4 separate regions of the Homo sapiens genome follow, and regions 1, 2 and 4 are each linked to region 3. Evidence: fine-mapped expression QTL. A gene starts in region 3. Each other region holds a variant in brackets. All regions are shown on one strand. Distances are from middle to middle. Region 1 overlaps NIPAL2 (NIPA like domain containing 2). Region 2 overlaps NIPAL2 (NIPA like domain containing 2). Region 3 holds the start of NIPAL2 (NIPA like domain containing 2). Region 4 overlaps NIPAL2 (NIPA like domain containing 2).

The links. PIP is the estimated chance that this variant, and not a neighbour inherited with it, causes the effect.
Region 1: its variant is fine-mapped to the expression of NIPAL2 in whole blood (TOPMed, PIP above 0.99).
Region 2: its variant is fine-mapped to the expression of NIPAL2 in whole blood (TOPMed, PIP above 0.99).
Region 4: its variant is fine-mapped to the expression of NIPAL2 in whole blood (INTERVAL, PIP 0.95).

The regions. Positions count from the first base shown.
Region 1 is chr8:98,244,888-98,249,887 of GRCh38, forward strand. The region is part of intron 3 of NIPAL2 (NIPA like domain containing 2); the gene reads right to left. NIPAL2-AS1 (NIPAL2 antisense RNA 1) reads left to right here. Exons shown (of 3, transcript XR_928444.3): 3 at 4,369-4,481. Among named protein-coding and RNA genes, the nearest start is that of NIPAL2, 47 kb to the right of the region's middle. The variant T/C (reference allele first, on the strand shown) is at 2,567.
Region 2 is chr8:98,233,728-98,238,727 of GRCh38, forward strand. It overlaps NIPAL2 (NIPA like domain containing 2), which reads right to left. Exons shown (of 11, transcript NM_001321635.2): 4 at 2,428-2,487. The region is part of intron 2 of NIPAL2-AS1 (NIPAL2 antisense RNA 1); the gene reads left to right. Among named protein-coding and RNA genes, the nearest start is that of NIPAL2, 58 kb to the right of the region's middle. The variant C/T (reference allele first, on the strand shown) is at 2,260.
Region 3 is chr8:98,291,804-98,297,116 of GRCh38, forward strand. It overlaps NIPAL2 (NIPA like domain containing 2), which reads right to left and starts at 2,432. Exons shown (of 11, transcript NM_001321635.2): 1 at 2,200-2,432. The coding sequence starts at 2,334. The region is part of intron 5 of LOC105375659 (a long non-coding RNA gene); the gene reads left to right. RefSeq lists a silencer at 1,952-2,671.
Region 4 is chr8:98,206,187-98,211,186 of GRCh38, forward strand. All of the region lies in intron 6 of NIPAL2 (NIPA like domain containing 2), which reads right to left. The region is part of intron 2 of NIPAL2-AS1 (NIPAL2 antisense RNA 1); the gene reads left to right. Among named protein-coding and RNA genes, the nearest start is that of NIPAL2-AS1, 32 kb to the left of the region's middle. The variant T/C (reference allele first, on the strand shown) is at 2,127.

The DNA.
Region 1 (5,000 bases), 47 kb before region 3:
CTAATCTAGCCTACAAATAAAAATTTCATCCATTTTCATTTCCTGGACATTCAATTTATTACGTCATCTCTGTGATATAAAGAGAAACCAGGATGTATATTTATAATATAGGAAAATAGAAGATAAAACACTAAGGAAAACTCTCTCTTATAAAAAGAAAATAACCCATGACATGAAAAGAACATATTTACATAATAATGCTACAAACAGAACCTCACATGTAAATATCTGGCTTGTGGTTTCTGACCACTTATAATGGCAACTTTATTGTACTGCTAAAAAGCAAACCACAAAAACACTTTCATGTCAGTCACAATCAAGCTCCAAACACGTGGACACATCGAGCGTGCTCACAGGCAGAGTCAACTCTAACCATATTGAGGTACTACTACATAATTATCATTCCCCGTTAGTTGTAGAACTTTAGGAAAAGAGGTATGTCAATTACAATGTATTCCATGGAATTAAGATTTGAATATCTGAGGATATGTCAGTTTGAAAAATGTCATCTTACAGCGGGAAAAGTTCTACCATTCATGTTGGCAGGAAGAAAAGTGTCAAGTAATTCATGTTGATTAAAAAAATTGCTATTGTCATTTACTGAAGATAATGAAGGAACTGTCGTTCAGAGACAATTTGCATAATTTCAAACGAGGGAACTTACCTGGATTAAGAACAATAATCCTTTCTTTTCTACATTTTTCTTGGCATGCGTTAATGTTAAAGTTGAAAAGACTCCAAAAAAGTAAAAATACTACCACTGACTAGATTAATTCTGTATTACAAATTTAATTGTGTGTTACTTCATCATTAGCAGCCTCTCTAGAAATACTCTTGTGGCATGCTGAAAAAATAAGGATGAGTGGAAAAGATGTTTCAAATAAAGTGTTTAGGCTTCAGGAATGCTTTCTGCTGAGCGTATATGAGCAGACATAGATTAAAACTTCAGAGTTTTATTTCACACATTTTATGTAGGCTGGTTTTTGGACAAACACGCAAAAGCAGATAACTCATCAAGCCACTAAGAAAAGTGATATTTTCTGCATATCTTGAACATTAAAATCAATGTCCGTGTGAAGTGACACTATCACAGGCATCCTGTGAGGTTTTAGAGTTCCGGTGACCTCATCCAGGCTGGCAGTAAGCACACTGCTCTAAGGGACAAAGAGAATTCGCAGCATCTAGGTTTGTGTAACGCTATGGGTCACTTGCTCATTGGTCTGTTTATGTTTCCTTTCATTTGTTTCTAATAAAAATCTTGGAGACCAAAGTTTCTCCTTGACATGATTTCTTTGGAATTCCAAAAGGCCTCACCAGGGCTTCCTGGCTCTGCTATGACCGTCGTCTAATGGATTACAGATACATTTCAGTTTAGGGCTTCATAACAGCACCACAGAAATACACAAAACAACATGTATTCCACATCATGAATTTTGATTTGAGCAAAAACCAGCATATTGGGGAAAATTAGAGATGGAAAAGACTTATCAGACTCATGCTCTCCTCATTTTCTCAGTGCAGTTAGCTCTCCAACCTTAATACAAATTAGCTCAGTAACAGTGCGACTACTTCTCTTAGGAACTTACTCTAGGGCCATGGAGATCTTGCTGCTATTATCTTTCCATACAAAATTTCAAGTGCTTAATTTAATATAATTTATCCCAAAGTCAATCTATTTATTACTCATTTCCATTCAGCTGGGCAATGATTGAGGTAATGAGTTTATGTGTCTCATACCTGGCATAGTGGATGCTCATTCAATATTAGTTTCTTACCTTTATTACTTTGTCTAAAGTATTGCCCGAATTTAACTTGGAAAAAGCTGATATGTTCTTGCACTCTTTTCTAGTTACTTTTAATCAATATACTCAGAGGCATAGAACTGAAAAATGTCACCGGTGCTTCCATCACATTCTATTTCTCCCTCCCTCCCTCCTTGCCCCTGCAATGATCTCCCTCCATATCCCACTTCCTTGCCGCCCCATAGACAAGTTAATTTTATACTGAGAGAAGTCTGCCATGAAGCTATTTAATTCCATGTGGCTTCAATTCTTTGGATTGTTGATAACTTCATTGTTTTTAATCATCTCTAAATGTTTAGGCATAGCATAGATCACAGTCATGGGGATAAACAGAAAAAGGAAAACATTAAATGTAAGCCCACGCTTTGGAGATGCACAAATAACTGAACTCAATCCCCAAAGGACAGGCTTATAGACCTATGAGTGTTCACAAGCATGAATATTCATGAGTCTCTTGCAATGAACTGTTTAACCACCGTGCTTCATTAGGAATTGAAATCTTTTAAGCAAGTATTTATCTCTTCCAACACCCTAGAACGGAACATCCTATCCTTGTTTTGTCAAAATTCAAATTTGAACCAATTCTGCAGGCTGCATTTTGTGATTTCCCCGTGCTGTGCTCTCCCAGGAAGGGCAAATGTCAAGCAACGAGACACACAGTCAGTCACCAGTCCCCTGGGTCTCAGTTAAATGGTGAGGAAGGACATGAAACAGGTCATTGTGCGCATGCTGAGAGGTGCCAAAGGGGAAGTGTAGGGCAGGGT[T/C]GCTGTGTGTGGTTGGGCGGGCTGTGTAAGTTTTGCAATGCAGAGAGTCTCCACATCTGAGGTGGCACCACCCGCATCTCACACCTTGTTGATTTGTGTATTTCTCAGCACAATTCTCTGACAGATGGTCCCAGATTGTCCTGCTCTAACAAAATTAATGTATTACAATCATTTGCAGACAGACAGAAATAAAGTATTTTGAGAAAGGGCTCCCTTTTTCTAATTCACAAAACGGCACCACACAGATGAGAGGAGGGCCTGCGTAGGGTGTGAAGAGAGCAGAGAGTAAGTCTGTTTAATTACCTTAGTCTGAAAGCCAGGGAAGGCCTCTTGAGCAAGGGTTTACCTGAGACAAGAAGGATTAGCAGCAGTTTGAAATTTTATTACAAACTCCACAGAATATCTAACCTATTTCTTTGTACTGGATTTCTGGTATATTAATAGTTTCCCAGAAAACGTATCCTCAAATCACAGTTGATCTGAAAGGAATCTGCCATTCGGCCTCTCTGTAGTTAATGAACAAGAGAACACAAGTGCTTTGAAGCCAGAGCAAGAAGATGGAAAACCGTATATACATCTAGCTTGCTAAGCATTTCCTCTGACAAACTCCTGTATTGGTTTTTAAAATGTATTTCGTGTTGGTAGGTTATTTGGAAATTCTTCTATTTTCCACCGTGTTTTGGTAGGGAATATGTGAAGGAGTTGAAGGGTAATTGCTACTTAATTAGATGAAAAATGAGCTGTGAGGATCCTACTTTATTGCTCTCTGTAAATTTAGCCACTGCATAGATGAGAACAATAAAAAGCCTTTCTTGAATTGGTTTCTCCATTTTAGAGAATTTAACCATCAGCCATCTTTGGAGGCATGGAAGTATGCTCCATTATAAAGAATAAGGTATTTTATTTATCTACACGATAATAATTACAAATCATAGTGACAATAGCCAGTGTTGTCATTATGTCAAATACTATCTAACCAATACCAACACTGTCCTTAGATGTTTGAGTTTACTCAGTTCTTCTGCACAATGACCTCTCATATGGGAACTACTTTCATTCCCACTTTACAGGCTAGGGATCTGAGGCATAAATTGGTTTTAATAATTTGCCTAAGGTCACAGAGCTTGCCAATGGCAGAACTGATATTTGAACCCTGGCGGTGTGGCCCTAGAGCTCTTGACCTTTCTGCTGCCCTGGTTTATTTGGACGAGTATTGAACCTAGCCTCTAGGTGAAATTGAAAATCATTAATTAAGCTTTGTGAATTAATGGAAACACTAATCCACATCTAGAATTAACCACACTGCTAGTAAAACTAGCATTTTAGTCAGAATAGATTTTGGACGTATTATTCATTGAGAAAGACTTCCAGTGAGAAAAATAAAGTAAAATTAAAAGATGACACAAGGATACAAAGGTTCTGACTCTCTCAAAAAGCTGGACCCAGGCCTGGGCATCCCTGTGCACTGAGATCTTTCCCCATTGTGCCGTCTTCACAGTGAAGCATAGACGGGTTATTTAGGCTGAGTCTCTAGCACAATGTGACTGCCTGTGAGCTTTGCCTTAAGAATTCCCTAAAGGGTTTTCTGCAGAACTGCTGTCCCTTGAGATACAATCAAGGGAATCTCAGATGTGTTCAGTATGTTTTGGAGACCTGGCGTACTGCATCTGCCCCTCAAAGATTCATAGTGTGCATAGGCCTGTTTTAGGGCCCCAAGAAGCTCTACACTAATGAAACCTGTGTCGCCTTTAAAACCCCAAATTGCAGAATCCTGTTTGATTATGGAATTCTTTGTTTCTTAGAACACCTATGAATCTACCTGTAAAACTAATGTTGGACAAATGCTGCCTGAAGCTGAGCACGTCAGTGAGGAACAGCAGGACACACAGAGAGAGGGAAAGAAAGCACAGAAGAAAGATGCTTCAAGAAAGGAAAACATGGGTAGAGGGCAAGTTGAAATGCCTATATTGCTAACTGTGGTGCTTCTTACAAATGAGTCCTATATATGACTAGTATATGTCAGACATATGTCATATATGACATACATGTCATATATGTCATACGTATATACATGTCAATCATATGACATGTATACTTTAATTGAACACATATTCAATTAATATATTATCTATTAATATGTAACTATATTTAATATATATTAAATGTATAACATAATACAATTTAATATAATTATATTAAATATAATTAATATATTAAATATATATTAAAGATAATCAATATAATTATATTAAATATATTAAACATAATCAATAAAATTATATTTACATTATTTAATACAAATATATTAAATATCATATATTTAATATAATTATATATAATATATAATCGAATATATTACACTCAAAGTATACAAATATATATTATACTCAAAGTACACAAAAGGAGCAGAAATTTTGATTATGTGAGACAAAAT
Region 2 (5,000 bases), 58 kb before region 3:
ATTGATATTTTTATTTCTTCCTTTCCATAGTTACAACTTGCATTTATTTTTTCCTAAGCCTTACAGGCAGGAGTTAAGGTGCAGTATGAAATAGAAACTTACTTTACCTTTTTGTATCTTTGTTAACATTTCTCATGTTATTCCCTCTGTATGTCCTCCTCCAAATTATTGGATGTAGCCTATGCCTGTCCTGCCCAGCTGTCAGAACCAATTCAAATGTTATCTCTGCTGTAAAAAATTCTCTCTGATCTTCTCAGCTAGAGAAGAACAGGGCTAAACCTGAGTAATTTTGTCCCCTAGGAGACATTTTGGAATGTTTGGAGACATTTTTGGTTGTCATAACTGAGTGGGAGGATGTTAGAGGGATCTAGTGGGTAAAGGTCAGGAGGGATCTTAATGATCCTACAGTGCACAGGGCAGCCCCTACAATGAAGAATGATCTGGCCCCAAATGTCAGCAATGCTGATTCAGAAACACTTCTAAACTAAAGACTCATGACATTATGGCACATATTCTTTTCTACTTAAAAAAAAACCTATTTATGAATCTATATTATCATGGACTATAAATTACTTGTGGACGGGGATTCTGTCTTAATTATCATTTATCACTAATATTCAAGATTAGTCAGCAAATCCCCCTTTATATCTGCATTCTCTCATTAAATACCTTAGATTAATTTGATCATTATTCAATCATTAACTATAAAAGGTGACAGATATTAGATAAAAGGATTTAAAGTTCCCTTAAGCCACTTGATAAATGAGAAAAATAATATATCTAGGACCTAATTTTTAGTTTATAAAACTCAGGTATTGGTCATTTTTTTTTCTTTTTGAGATAGAGTCTCACTCCGGTTGCCCAGGCTGGAGTGCAGTGGTGCAATCTTGGTTCACTGCAGCCTCGTCCTCCCAGGCTCAGGTGATCCTCCTGCCTCAGCCTCCCAAGTAGCTGGGACTACAAGTGCATGACACCACACCTGTCTATTTTTTTTTTTTTTTTTCAGTAGAGACGGGGTTTTGCCATGTTGCCCAAGCTGATCTCGAACTCCTGGACTCAAGCAATCCGTCTGCCTCGGCCTCCCAAAGTGCTGGGATTATAGGCATCAGCCACTGCATCAGGCATTGGCCATTCTTATTTCTGAGTCCATACAACTTCCCCAAATGATTCTACAAACCACAATATATAAAAAAGGGTATAGAAAAATAATATGTTGGAAGAGATAGAATCCACATATGAATGCATTTAGAAAAACATTTAACCATGAAAAATTTGACAATGTTGACTAAAAACTCTGCTAGCAGAATCAAACCAAGGAGGAAAAGAAAAAGAGAAAACATTTTCAAGACATTACGCTCAAGGGAAACATGATCAGGGAAAACAAATGCTCAACATACCAACACTGGTGTCACATTTAGAGCTCAAAATTTAAAAAAAATATGATCTCCCTGGAAGAGGGTAGGCATTGTTTTATTTAAAGTGCCTAAAGTATTTGTATTCATTATCATATGTCAGCAGCAATTCAAACAGGATTTTGTCACGGAAGAAAATATGAATCTCTATAATTCTTCTCACCAATGATATGTCCAACAATAGCTGGAAAATTCAACACATAAGTGATGGCTTTGCCATACATCAGAAATGTTTCTTACAGCCAGGAAGGCTACTGTCATTTTCCATTAATAACTGTATTTCCAAATAAAATATTTAAGAACAATGGTCTGTGCTACTTTTGGGAAAAGCCAAATATAAATTTTAGTTAGTTGATGCATCAAATTTTTTGTGGTTTTCATTTTTATGCAATACTTTCGTGTAACAATATAACAAATATATCCTTTGGAGTGTAATAGTCTATTAGGTAACACAAATGTTTTCATTGAATTTTATGGTGTTCATAAAATTTTATAACATTAATATTATTATAATAACCCATTATAAAATATACAAATGCTCAACATACCAACACTAGTGTCACATTTAGAGCTCAAATTTTAAAAAAAATATGATCTCCCTGGAAGAAGGGAGGCATTGTTTTATTTAAAGTGCCTAAAGTATTTGTATTTTAATGGGTTATTATAATAATAAAATGTTATGAAATTATAATTCAGTGCATTATAATAATATAATCCCTTCAACTGATTAATATTATAATCATAAATTATTTTATAATAATTCATTATAATTATTAATTAATAATTTGCTATAGCAAAAATTGATCACATTTAGCAGTAGTCACAATAGAAATGGAAGTATTTTATG[C/T]GAGAAGAGATGGCAGCTCCAAGACAGAATAATGCCTGACTCTAAATGAGACTTACACCCATTTCAGTAATTTGTTTCCAGTTTTTATCGCACATATTTTTTATGGATTGTATTATTTATTTCCTGATCAAGCAATGCTACAATTACATGAATTAAATAATTACTTACCGAGTAAGTCTGAGGCTCTCAAATTGTCTTTCAGAAATGTAACAGAAATAATGGCACTACCTATAAAGAAAATGGCCATTAGTGGTAGTTCCAATATAAAAGTGTCTATTACGCAATGCCATTTGAAAGAAGTTAAGCAATTTGTGCCTTATGCCTGATGAGCTATGTCCTGATCAGAGACATTCAGCAGTTGTGGCTATAAAAAGGCCTTTCTTCCCCCTGTGGCTGAGGATATGTGGAAATTGGTGTGGTTTACAATGGATGTGGCTGAGACAGTGTCTTGTATATAGTGAAGGCTTAATAAAAGTTTGCTAAAAGACAGAACAAATGAAAGAAAGAAGAAAGGCAGAAAGAGCAGGAAGGGGCAGAAAGAGCAGGAAGGATTAGAAAGACAGGAAGAGATAGGAAGGAAAGAAAGAAGGATGGGGCAGGGTGCAGTGGATCATGCCTGTAAGCCTCAGCACTTTGGGAGGAGTTTGAGTCCAGGAGTTCAAGATAAGCCTGGGCAACATAGTGAAACACCCCATCTCTACTTAAAATACAAAAAATTAGTGGGGCATGGTGGCGTGGGCCTGTAGTCCCAGCTACTGGGGAGGCTGAGGTGGGTGGATTTCTTGAGCCTGGGAGGTTGAGGCTGCAGTGAGCCATGATGGCACCACTGCACTGAAGCCTCAGTGACAGAAGGAGATCCTGTCTCAAAAAAAAAAAAAAAAAAAAAAAAGGACAGGAAGAACTTTAAATATGTGCTAAACTGAAACTCATGATTTCCCAGCATCTCCTCCTATAATTCCTGTTCCGACAATTCCTGTATCTACTTAACACCAGAATCCCAGGACTGCTCCTATTTCTCTTCTATTTGACGATCCACATCCAACAGGTCACTGGGTCTAAATCTATAGTCCACTCTATTTTTTTCTTTTTTTTGAGACAGGGTTTTGCGCTGTTGCCCAGGCTGGAGTGCAGTGGCAAGATCATAACTCACTGCAACATTGGACTCCTAGGCTCAAGTGATCCTCTCGAGTAGCTGGGACCACAGGCTCATGCCACCACTCCCAGCTAATTAAAAATTTTTTTATTTTTAGAAATGGGGTCTCACTATGTTGCCCAGGCTGGTGTCAAACTCCTGGGCTCAAGTGATCCTCCTGCCTCGACCTCCCAAAGTATTGGGATTACAGGCGTAATCCACCGCAACCAGCCTTATTTCACTCTTTGTTAGGTCTGTTCCCAACTCTTCATTCCTGTGATCACCAGCCCTATCCCAAGCTCAGGGCAGCTTCTCTGGCTTAGACCTTTAGCTTCCCTCTGACCTCCCATTTCCCCCTTTTCCCCTTTCCCCATACCACCACCAGAGTAATCGCTCTAAAATGCAAATCTAATGTAAATCCACTGCTTTCAAACCCCTAAGTGGCTGGTCTACAGGACAAAGGCCACACTACCAAGCAGAACACTCAAAGAGCTATGATTTTGCTTCTGATGCTTTGGTCACCACATTTGTCTTTATTTGATAATCTGTAGCCCACCTTTACTGAAGTAATTATAATTCCCAGAATCCACCATGCAGTTTCATGCTTAATGGCTTTTACATGTCCAGCTCTGCCCTGTCCTTGTGACCAGCTCTAGACTCAAGTGTCACCTCTGGATTCCCCTGGGCTGAGCTGATCCCGCCACCCTTATGCTCTGATTACCCCTGTGTATAGCTTTTTCACTACACCTAAGATTTATTTGCCTGTCTTCCCCGAAAGACCATCAGTTCCTTTTAATCTGAGATATGTCTTTTTATTCTTCTAAGATCTCCAGTGAGTAGCTGTATCTAGCACATAAAAGGTGTTCAATAAATGCTCATTGAATGAAATGAAAGAGTATGGGATCTCAGCCTTGCAGTTGTTCTCTTTCCCATTAGTGACACTACTGGACTCTCTCCCTCACAGTCGAGCCATCGTCTGCTACTGTCGCCTCAGGTACCAGGGTTAAACTGAACCTCTCTGAGTTGTCCCTGTTATGGGGTCATTTATGAGTATAGGCATGGGAAAATCCAAAATTGCAATAATACAAAAAGATATGCAACATAATATATGCTGTAAATTTTTAACAAAAACTATTTGCTGGTTGTTTTTTAAAAGTAAAAGTACAGGAAAGAAAAGTTATCATAAAATAATATCATCCTGTAAAGAAAATTGCAGTTAATATATTGGTGTTTTTATTTCCCTTCAGTTGAGATCAAACTTTAATATCAAATTTCCTTTCTCAGTTTCCTCAGTTAACACATTACAATTTGCCATGTCATCAAGAATTCTTCATAGACATAATTTTAATGTTGGTATAATAATCCATTAAACAGATGCTGTGGTTAAATTTGAATGTGACTATATCTGATGTTCCGGCAATTTATTGAAAACAAAATAAGTCCACACCAGAAACCCTCATGCAGGATAAGATGAGATGCTATTTGTTTCCTTTTTTTTTTTTTCCTCAACTTAGCTTTTTCTCATTCTGGTTGATCTTTGTCCTTCAAAACTTTTCCCGGGCAGGTTACTTACAGGAATGGAAGTTTCACACAGGGTAAACCAGGCATG
Region 3 (5,313 bases):
CACTTCCCTGCTCCTAAGACATCTTCCCCCACTGAACTACTACTTTTGAGTTGCTTTGAGGTTTCTTCCTCCAGAAGCACTCACACCTTTGTCTTAGACAACATTGATTCTAAGTGGCCACTGTTAAACATGTATTACATGAAAGCATTCCAGGGAAGTTTGTCTTTTTCTATGTAGTAAGGTTAATTGATCAGATTTGATGATAATCACTTTGGAAGGGATAAAGGGACAGAGAACTAGGCTATCAGCCAACACACACTGTGCAAATATTTTAGTTGTGATAAAACCAATGGAGGCAAGCAAATAAGCATCATTAAGCTGTGGCTAGTTAGCAACCAACATTCATTTTGATTGTGGGAGTGACACATTTATATCTCACACTTTGTTTTTCTGTATCCACACCCATTTTCAGCCATTTCTATTCAGTGTCAAAAAAGACAAGAAAAATTAGACTCAATTTTATTTTTACTGGCCTGGACAACACCAGAGGCACTCAATAAAATGCTTCTCGAGTAAACTTTTTAAAAATTAATTTTTACTTTTGCTTAACACAAATGCAATTACTGAAAAGATAAAATACCACCATCTTATAAGAGGGCCTAAATTTGCACAATAATGGCAAAACTTGATACAGTTTTATCTCAAACCAGCAAAGTTTAGATGTCAGCTCAGTAATTTCAATTAGCACATTCTGGATACATCCTTTCTAACCTGTACAAATACACACTGTCAAAGGCAAATTAAGCCTTGCAAACAGTATTTATTTGCCTCACATTTATGTCACATGATAATCTGTGTTTGGATATCAGACAGCCAAGACAATCAAGAATTCCAGGAAATGTCAAAGAAAACTAATGACTACAGAGGTTTCCACTGTGAAAACAATGTCCTGTTTTTGGATGATCACATCTGCTAACCCTCTATTTTTTTTTTTTTTTTAATCAAGAGGGGATAGATAACTCATTCTTAAACTTATATTGGGAATACTTCTAATAAAAGAATAATATAATAGATAGATTCAAGTTCCCATAAAAATGATGCTTTTCTTTGTAATTCCTGTGGGTAGAAGAAAGGAGAAATGGGGTTGGATTACAAACATTGATCAAGAGGCTCTGAGTACCCTCATTTTTCCTATTTTTATATCTTTTATGATGAAATGACTTAAAGCAATACTCTCCCCTCTTGAAAACTAATAAAGTGAACATGCTTATTTATCTTACTTATTCTTTATACAAATATATTCTCTTCTGCATTCAGAAATTAATATTTAGAACACTTCAGGCATAAAAGGAATCCAGATCTTTGATAATTGGTTAAACTCTCCGATTTAGGACAACAGCAACAAATATTTTCTGATTATATTGTTGCAAAAATAAAAGTATCCATGGTTTTGTTAAAGAACAAGAACAAAGTAACACATTTAATGAAAACAGGAGGAAGCCTGGAATCCACCGTGATAAAACTTAGTTGCAATATGAACGCTGCTAGAGGAAGGGCTGGCCAGAACACTTCCTCATCTTAAACCAAGCCAAAAATAAATGGGCGGCTCCAAGTCCCTTTGATTTTGTTAAATGTATATTTCCAGTGTAAACTGGCGTTGTTTAAGTTAACAAAGTTTTCCCAAAGGGCCGGTGGGAAAGAATGAGAGTCCTGCAAATGCAACCTGAGAAAATGTGTTCCTCGCACGGAAATGGAAGAGCTGTGTTGAGATACCAGGGACACACGCAGGGCATCTGCGCGAGGTGACATTAGGCTGCCCTTAATGAGTTTTCTGCTTCTGATAACAGGGTGTCACTTTTTTCTTTTCTTTTAACTGTAAAAGGATCCTGGGGTGAAAATGAGTGAATTGCCCCCACACTCCTAGATTCCTTCCGGGAGAAGAGGGCGGACGCAGGCTGGGGAGGCGGGATCGGGACCCGGAGGTCCCAGGAACGGGTGGCTGAGGTCAAGGCCGAAGACCTGGGCGCCCACTCCCAGTGCCGGGTGCCCGGGAGAGGAAGACTGGGCGGACCCCCGCGCTTCCGGATGAGGCGGACTTAGGTCAATGCGGGAAACATTGCATGTCACCTCTTCCCACTCGGAGAGGCCGGGTGTCTTCCTGAGAGCTGGCAGGAAAGCGGCCGAGGCGCAGAGGCGCCCGGAGCCAGCCGCCCTGGCCGCGTCCCCACCGGGCTGCGGTGGCTGCGGGGCGGCCCTTACCTGGTTCCTGCGGTACCAGTCGCCCGAGAGGGAGCCGTTGCCGGCGCCTGGTGCCCCGTACGTGAAATTCAGTGACAGCTCGTCCAGGGCGGCCGAGGCGGAGTCCCCGGGGCCCGCGGGCGCCACCGCTGCCATGAGGTCTCGCTCCCGGCGCTCGGGCTCCGGCTCGGGCTGCGGCCGCCTCCCCGCCCTGTTGCACCGCGAGGAGGCCGCGCCGCAGCCACTTCCTGCTCGGTGCCCGGGCGAGGCGGGCGCGCCGAGGCCACCTGGCTCCCGCCCCCGCGCGGCCGTAGGTGCTCCCAGCCTGGCCGGGCGCTGCCTCCTCTCCTCCTCCGGTGCGAGGTGTCCTCGGGGAGCCCGGCGGTCTGCGGCCTCCCGGGGCCGTCCAGCTCGCACCGCGCCCTCCTTCCGCTGGGCCAGTGTCTGCATCCTCGGGGCCGCACTGCCCAAGGGGGCAATCCCCGCGGCCGTCCGCAACGGGTCCCCGCGCCTGTCGGGGCCAGAATCAGATCATCTCCGTTGTAAACATTTGTCCAAGTCAATGGAAGAGGAGGAGACACTGACTAACCCAAAGCAGCTATCATCTCCCATCTCTACCTGGCAATTCCAGTCCTCTATCACATATGTAGTGTTTCTCACCGATATTTTAAAAATTGATTGCATATGAAAAAGTCATGAGTTCCCAGAAATATTGTAAGCAATATGAGAAAAAAAGATCCGAGCGATTGAATCTCAGTGCCAGTGCTTGATAGATCCTTAGTAAATATTCCTTGAATGAGGAATGTGGTAGCCATAGGACCCCAGTGTGCGATGACTGGATTGGGTTTGCTTCAGATGGGATCAGGTGGAGTTGCTGAAAAGTTGCCAGCTACTGTATATATGAATTTAGGATGAAAGATAAATGTTGTTATTAATCTTAAGAACTCTAACGAGATGTTCTGGTTTTACCTGTATTCAAATTCTAATGTGTGACCACAAATGATCTGTAGGGTATTTCTCACTTTAAAAAAACCATGATTCTATACTGTTGCCTGAAGGCTGATAGTTGCCTTCTTTTGTTTACACAATGCTGAGGTTTTTCTTAGATAATGTGCTTTGACTTCCATGAGTTCATGAAAGAGAGACCTTCAAGAAAAGAGAATTGCTGCCTAGAAGGGAGCAGGGACAGTTTTCAGTGTTTCTTAGGGGAAATGTGCAAATGAGAGAAAAGAGTGAGAAAAAGTCATTTCACATACAGAAAAAACAAGACATGTCGTCTCAGAAATTGTGTAGTTTCTTGCTTAAGCACTCGAGATGTTCAGTGAACAGCTAACAATTGTAGGTAACTATTCCCAATTTTAAGAGGCTGATTTACTTCAAATAAATATCTGAAGGAAAAAGGTCTCTATTTGTTATATTACATTTTATTTTATTTTTTGAGACAGGGTCTTGCTCTGTTGCCCAGGCTGGAGTGCAGTGGTGTGATCTTGACTCACTTTAGCCTCATATTCCTGGGCCCAAGTGATCCTCCCACCTGGGACTACATACAGGTGCATGCCACCATGCCCAGCTAATTTTTTTTTTTTTTAGATAGAGTCTCTCTCTCTTGCCCAGGCTGCAGTGCAGTGGCACAATCTCAGCTCACTGCAACCTCTGCCTCCTGGGTTCAAACAATGCTCCTGCCTCAGCCTCCTGAGTAGCTGGGACTACACGTGCACACCACCAAGCCCGGCTAATTTTTGTATTTTTAGTAGAGACAGGGTTTCACGGTGTTGGTCAGGCTGGCCTCAAGCTCCTAACCTCCAGTGATCCCCCTGTCTTGGCCTCCCAAAGTGCTGGGATTACAGGTGTGAGCCACCACACCTGGCCCTGGCTAATATTTTTCTATTTTTTTGTAGGGACAGGGTCTCGCAATTTTTCCTAGGCTGGTCTAGAACTCCTGGCCTCAAACAGTTGTCCCACCTCGGCCTCCCAAAGTGGTGGGATTACAGGTGTGAGCTGCCATGCCTTGTCTGATAAGTTTTCTATAACATCACATTCATTGATATTGGTGACTTCATTAATGCTTCTTTCTCTTCACATGCTTTAGGGTGCAAGTAACAGAGTATCCAAATAAAAGTGGCTTAAACAATAATTATCTGCTATCTCCAGAGGAATGTGTCTCTATGTGGTTCTATTATGTCGTCACTTCCACCTTTCTGCTCTGCTATCCCTGAGGTACTGGTCTTGTCCATTGAGGGAGGAAAGCCTTTTCCAGAATCCTCCTGGCATCCTTTCACCTCAGATCCCATTGGCTGGGACTGGGTCACATGCCCATGTTCTACCAGCAAGGGAGGCTGGGAAAGTGATTCTTGGGTATTTCCAACCTAGTGAGAGGTAAGCTCTACCAACCAGGATGAGTGGGAATGCCATGGGGTTATGGGGGAGGGGAACCAGTCAACCCTGGTACAACCACTCTAGTATTTTTCTATCAGCCAGATTGTAAGTAGTTGTACAGTTGCTAACAAGCAAAATACTAAATGGATTGTGTTACTTTCTGGTTTAAAATGCCTTGAAGCCTCCCTATTGCCATAATGAAGTCCACACTTTTTTTTTTTTTGAGACAGAGTCTTGCTCTGTCACCCAGGCTGGAGTGCAGTGGCACAATCTCGGCTCACTGCAAGCTCCGCCTCCCGAGTTCACGCCATTCTCCTGCCTCAGCCTCCTGAGTAGCTGGGACTACAGATGCCCGCCACCACGCCCAGCTAATTTTTTGTATTTTTAGTAGAGTCTGGGTTTCATCGTGTTAGCCAGGATGGTCTCGATCTCCTGACCTCATGATCCACCCACCTCAGCCTCCCAAAGTGCTGGGATTACAGGCGTGAGTCACCACGCCCAGACAATTTTTTTTTTTTTTTAATTTTTTGTAGAGATGGGGTCTCATTATGTTTCCCAGGCTGGTCTAGAACTCCTGGCCTCAAACAATTCAGTGAGACTTCTGAATAAAACTAAGTTTAATTCTTTAAAAGCTTGATTTTTTTCCCTTTAGTTGATACTCTGCTATACTCAACTTGTTCCCATTTTATTTCTTAATTTAAAAAAACATTTTCAATTTCTTTACATTTGTTTAAAACCTCTAATTTTGGAGGAAGATGG
Region 4 (5,000 bases), 86 kb before region 3:
AAAAAAACTATAAGTCAAAGGCAATGCGAAGGAGAAATACTCCTTTTGTTGCTGTTGATCTACTTGGTCATAATATATCTGAGTTTCCTTCATTTTATTTGAAAAGGTATTTTATGTATGTGTGTGTGTGTATATATATATATGTATGTATGTATGTATGTATTTGAAATATATATATATTTAAAACAGCAAGTGGTGGCCAGCCAAGAAAAGCCTCCCATAATATCGTTTTCCAAAAACTGAAAATATACTTTAACTTGAAGGGTACTAGGGCACACTTCCAAATTAGGCATTTTCTTTTAGTTAAAAATCATAATTGGCCGGGCGCGGTGGCTCACACCTGTAATCCCAGCACTTTGGGAGGCCAAGGCGGGCGGATCATGAGGTCAGGAGATCGAGACCATCCCCTGGCTAGCACAGTGAAACCCTGTCTCTACTAAAAATACAAAAAATTAGCTGGGCATGGTGGTGGATGCCTGTATTCCCAGCTACTCGGGAGGCTGAGGCAGGAGAATGGCGTGAACCCAGGAGGCGGAGTTCGCAGAGGGCCACTGCACTCCAGCCTGGGTGACAGACCGAGACTCTGTCTCAAAAAAAAAAAAAAAAGGAAAAAAAAATCATAATTGACAGAGGAGATCAGGTGATAAATTCTAAAAACAAACCCCACTTCTCAACAAAGAGGCCCTTACAATCAGGCCTTTCTCCATCTTAAGATGTCTTTTGACCTGATTCTTTTACATATTTCCTACTGATTATGCTAGTAGCCACATCTTAGCTAAACTAGGCATTTTAAATATCTATAGAGATCTGTGTGTCACTTGATGGTTTAAGTTTGTAGGTTAGCTCTTGAGGGACCTTGATTTCCTTCTAAACACTGCCTGAAATTAGAACACAGTGTGATTATGATCTTGTGGTCTGAACAGCCAGGTTTCCCAACGGGACAATTAATGGAGAAGGAGTTGAACGTACTGTTCCATTAGCCTCAGAACCTCAGAATTGCAAAGGACCTTAAAGGTCATCTGATTTAACCACTATCTGATTTTATATTATACTTAAACACAAGACAAAGACAAAACTAGAATTCTCTGTTATTGATAGCTAAACAAACTATCAATTTCTGTAGCCAATCGTTACATTTTCAAAGCATGCACAATTGTCAACTGATTAATCACTATTTTAACCTGTAAATTATTTCTAGGCTGGTGTTGAGTACTTCTAAGTATTTTTGGGGGGTGGTTGATGAGGATAGGTGGAAATACATAATTGTAATGCAGTGTTCTTCTAACATTATACTTAAAAATAGAAGGTACTTAGGTAAGCACAGAAAAAAAGATGAGAATAAACTACATCAAGATATTGTCAGTGGTTATCTCTAGCACTGGGATAATGAATTAACTTGAAATTCATTAAAAAAATCTACAAAAGTAAACATATTCATTTAAAAATTTTTGGAAAATGTGGGAAAGCCTGGAAAGGAAAATTAAAATTGCCTGTAGTTTCAGCACTCACCTCAAATCATTTTTGACATTTGGACATGTTGTTATTTTCCTATCTATAAGTATGAATAGGTTACAACATGTGAATCATAAGGTATATGCTACTTAGGAGCTCATTTTCCAAGTATATACCACTTAGGAACCTATTTACCTAAAGTATTTTCTATTTCATTAAGTATTCTTCTAAACCATGAATTTGTATGAATTTATTTTGGCAATTCCCTATTTTTGGATATTTAGGTTGTATCCATTTTTTTTTTAACTATTAAAAGCGGGGCTGTGATGAATATTCTTGAACGTAAGTCTTTGTTTATCACTCTGCCTATTTCCTTAGGAAAACCACCAAAGGGGAATTCCTGACTACAGCCACTGTGAAGGCTTGTGAAATATACTAGCAAACTGCCTTCCAGAGAGTACCAGTCACACTCTGTTGTACAGTGCTCAATTGCACAGATTTTTGTATTTTTCTTTGTATCTTTCTCTATTTTCGTAATTGTCAATAATTACCATGTATACTTTCATCATTAGAACAACACCATTTTTTCTAAACATGTGCTGACCTGTTTTTGAAATTTGGCCCTCTCAATTCCCTCTTAGATTTTCATCAATATACCTCCTTTCAAAAATTTT[T/C]CTAGGTTGCCATCAACATTTCCTTATGAGAGCCATAAACATTTTATTTACTAATTTGTCTCTGATAACCAAAGCATTCCATGGATAGAGAAGGACTTCCTGGCCTTCCTGGTTTCCTGATCAACCCAGAGGCGTTAGAGTACTTTTTTTTTTGATGTGGAGTTTTGCTCTTGTGGCCCAGGCTGGAGTGCAATGGTGCGATCTTGGCTCACTGCAATCTCCACCTCGTGGGTTCAAATAATTGTCCTGCCTCAGCCTCCTGAGTAGCTGAGATTACAGGCACCCACAACCACACCTGGCTAATTTTTGTATTTTTAGTAGAGCTGGGGTTTCACCATGTTGGCCAGGCTGGTCTCAAACTCCTGACCTTAGGTGATCCACCTGCCATGGCCTCCCAAAGTGCTGGGATTACAGGTGTGAGCCATCACACCAGGCCTGGAGTCCTTTAAGAATGATCACCACTACTGGCAAAGTGGGCCACTCGCCAGAAGCCAGGTTTCTTTCTTCTGACTACCCTCACTTGCTATTTTCTTTTTTTTAATTCCATTTTTTATCAATCACACAAGCAATATCATGTACTTTGTTACGTCTCATGGATACAACATGACTTTCATAATTACTTTTTTAAAACGTACTAATGCTCATTTACAATATTCAAGATGAGCACACAGTGCAGAGTGAGCATCTTGGTTCTCATTTCTTGCTGTAATGAGAACGCTTCTGGTATTTCACCAACAAGTTCTTTATCAGGAGTGCATATGAAACTTGATGAACTATATTAATGAATTTCTTAAAGAATCCTTCTTTCATTCCCATAGTTAATTAAATTCAAATGTTTACTGTGTGATTACTGTGCTCAATTCTACTTAAAGAATATATACTGTAAATAATAGACATGCTCTAATCTGGCCAGGAAGAGGGGCTCATAACAGCATATAAACATATAAGTAGAATATGTAAGTGCAAATTGTTGTAAGTGTTACAGAGAAGAACCAGTTTTATTAAGACCACTTGGGCCAGGTGTGGTGGCCCATGCCTGTAATCCTAGCACTTTGGGAAGGTGAGGCAGGAGGATTGCTTGAGCCTAGGAGTTTGCAACCAGCCCGGGCAGCATGGGGATACCCTGTCTCTCCAAAAAAAAAAAAAAAAAAAAAAATTAGCCAGGCATGATGCCACGCATCTGTAGTCCCAGCTACTCAGGAGGCTGAGGTAGGAGGATCACTTGAGGCTGGGAGTTTGAAGCCGCAGTGAGCTATGATTGTGCCACTATACTCCAGACTGGGTGACAGAGCAAGGCTCTGTCTCAAAACAAAACAAAGACCATTTTGTCACTGAGTATGATTTGCTCTGTTTTATTTGCTAATTTTTTTTTTTTGGATTTTTGTATCAATATTTAGCAGTGATATTAGTTCATAGTGTTTTTTGTTTGTCCTATTTTGTTTCCCATTTTGGGAGGTGAGTCTCATCTGATTATGTTTTCTAAAAAGTAAAAGCTTTCTTCTTATGTCCTCAAATAGTTGCAACAGCATCAGAATAATCTATTCCTTAAGGATTTGAAGATATTACCTTTGGAACTCTCTAGGCCTGGTTCTTTTTTAGGATATAGCTTTTTAACAACTCCTTTATTTCCTCCATAGTTATTTTCATTAAAAAATAAGCAATTCATTCAAATTTATATATATGCATATCTATCTATCATTTCTATTTTGGGGTATTTGTGGTTTTTCTTTTTTTCTGATGGAGGATCTATTTTATTAGTTGTCTTTTAAGAACATGTTGTGTTTAGTTATAAATCCATTACTTTTCTCTTTTCTATTTCATTAATTTTTGCCTTTTTAATTAATTTTAATTAATTCTTTCTGCTTTCCTTAGCTTTATTTCAGTATTTTTTCTAATTTCTTGAGTTGAATGCTTAATTGACTTACATTTAAAGCAATCAATCTCTCTGAATACAGCATTAGTCATGAACTCTAGGTTTAATATTAAGTGCTTTAATAATAATTTAAAAATATGCTGCAATTAAATCTTGGTTTGTACTTTGCACAGCTGCAGTTTAAGGGTAGTGTTAACATTTCCAGGTGGTAGGGTTTTACTGGTTTCTATTTTTGTTATTATTTTTCTGTTTTTATTTCACTGTGATCTGAGGATGTGGTCTGTATTCTTTCAACTTCCTGGAATTTATCAAGGATTTCTTTATGGCCAATTATAGGATCAACTTTTGTAAACGTTACACAGGCACTTGAAAGAAAGTTTATTCTCTGTTTTCAGGATTTAGAGTTCAATATTAGAGGTACCAGTTCATGATTAATTATTCAGATCCTCTGTCTTTATATGGGTTTCTGTCTAATTATCTTCCATGAGCTGAGAGAAGTCTCCTAACCCCCTTATATTTCTGTTAGTGTAGTTTTGCATTTTCTGCAGATTTTCTGTTGCATATTGGATATGATATTTTGTGGATTGTGCTCTTTTTGTCAGGATAAATTACCCCTTTTATCTCACTTAATATCTTCTGCCTTAATTTTCATTTAGTAATATCATGACCTCCTGCTTTGTTTTACTTTCAAGCTGATTTACCTTGTTTTAGATGAAAATTTATGCATGTAGCCAAAACACTTCGCAACCTGCAAGGGCCAATCAGAAAGGGTGCTGGCTGTGGCACTGCTGGAAGAGGGTCCTGGAGAACCCCTGTCTTAGTATTTATCATGACGGGGCTGGGGTTGAGAGGAGCAGATATTAGGGGAAGGAAGCATGGTGGCTGCTATTTGAATAATCCTTACAGCTGTACTAGTGCAAATTGGCTGAATCCAATTTCAGAATCATTTTCAAAATCAATCTGGAAGTTTCCCTGATGTCCAATTTGAGAATATTTCTTTT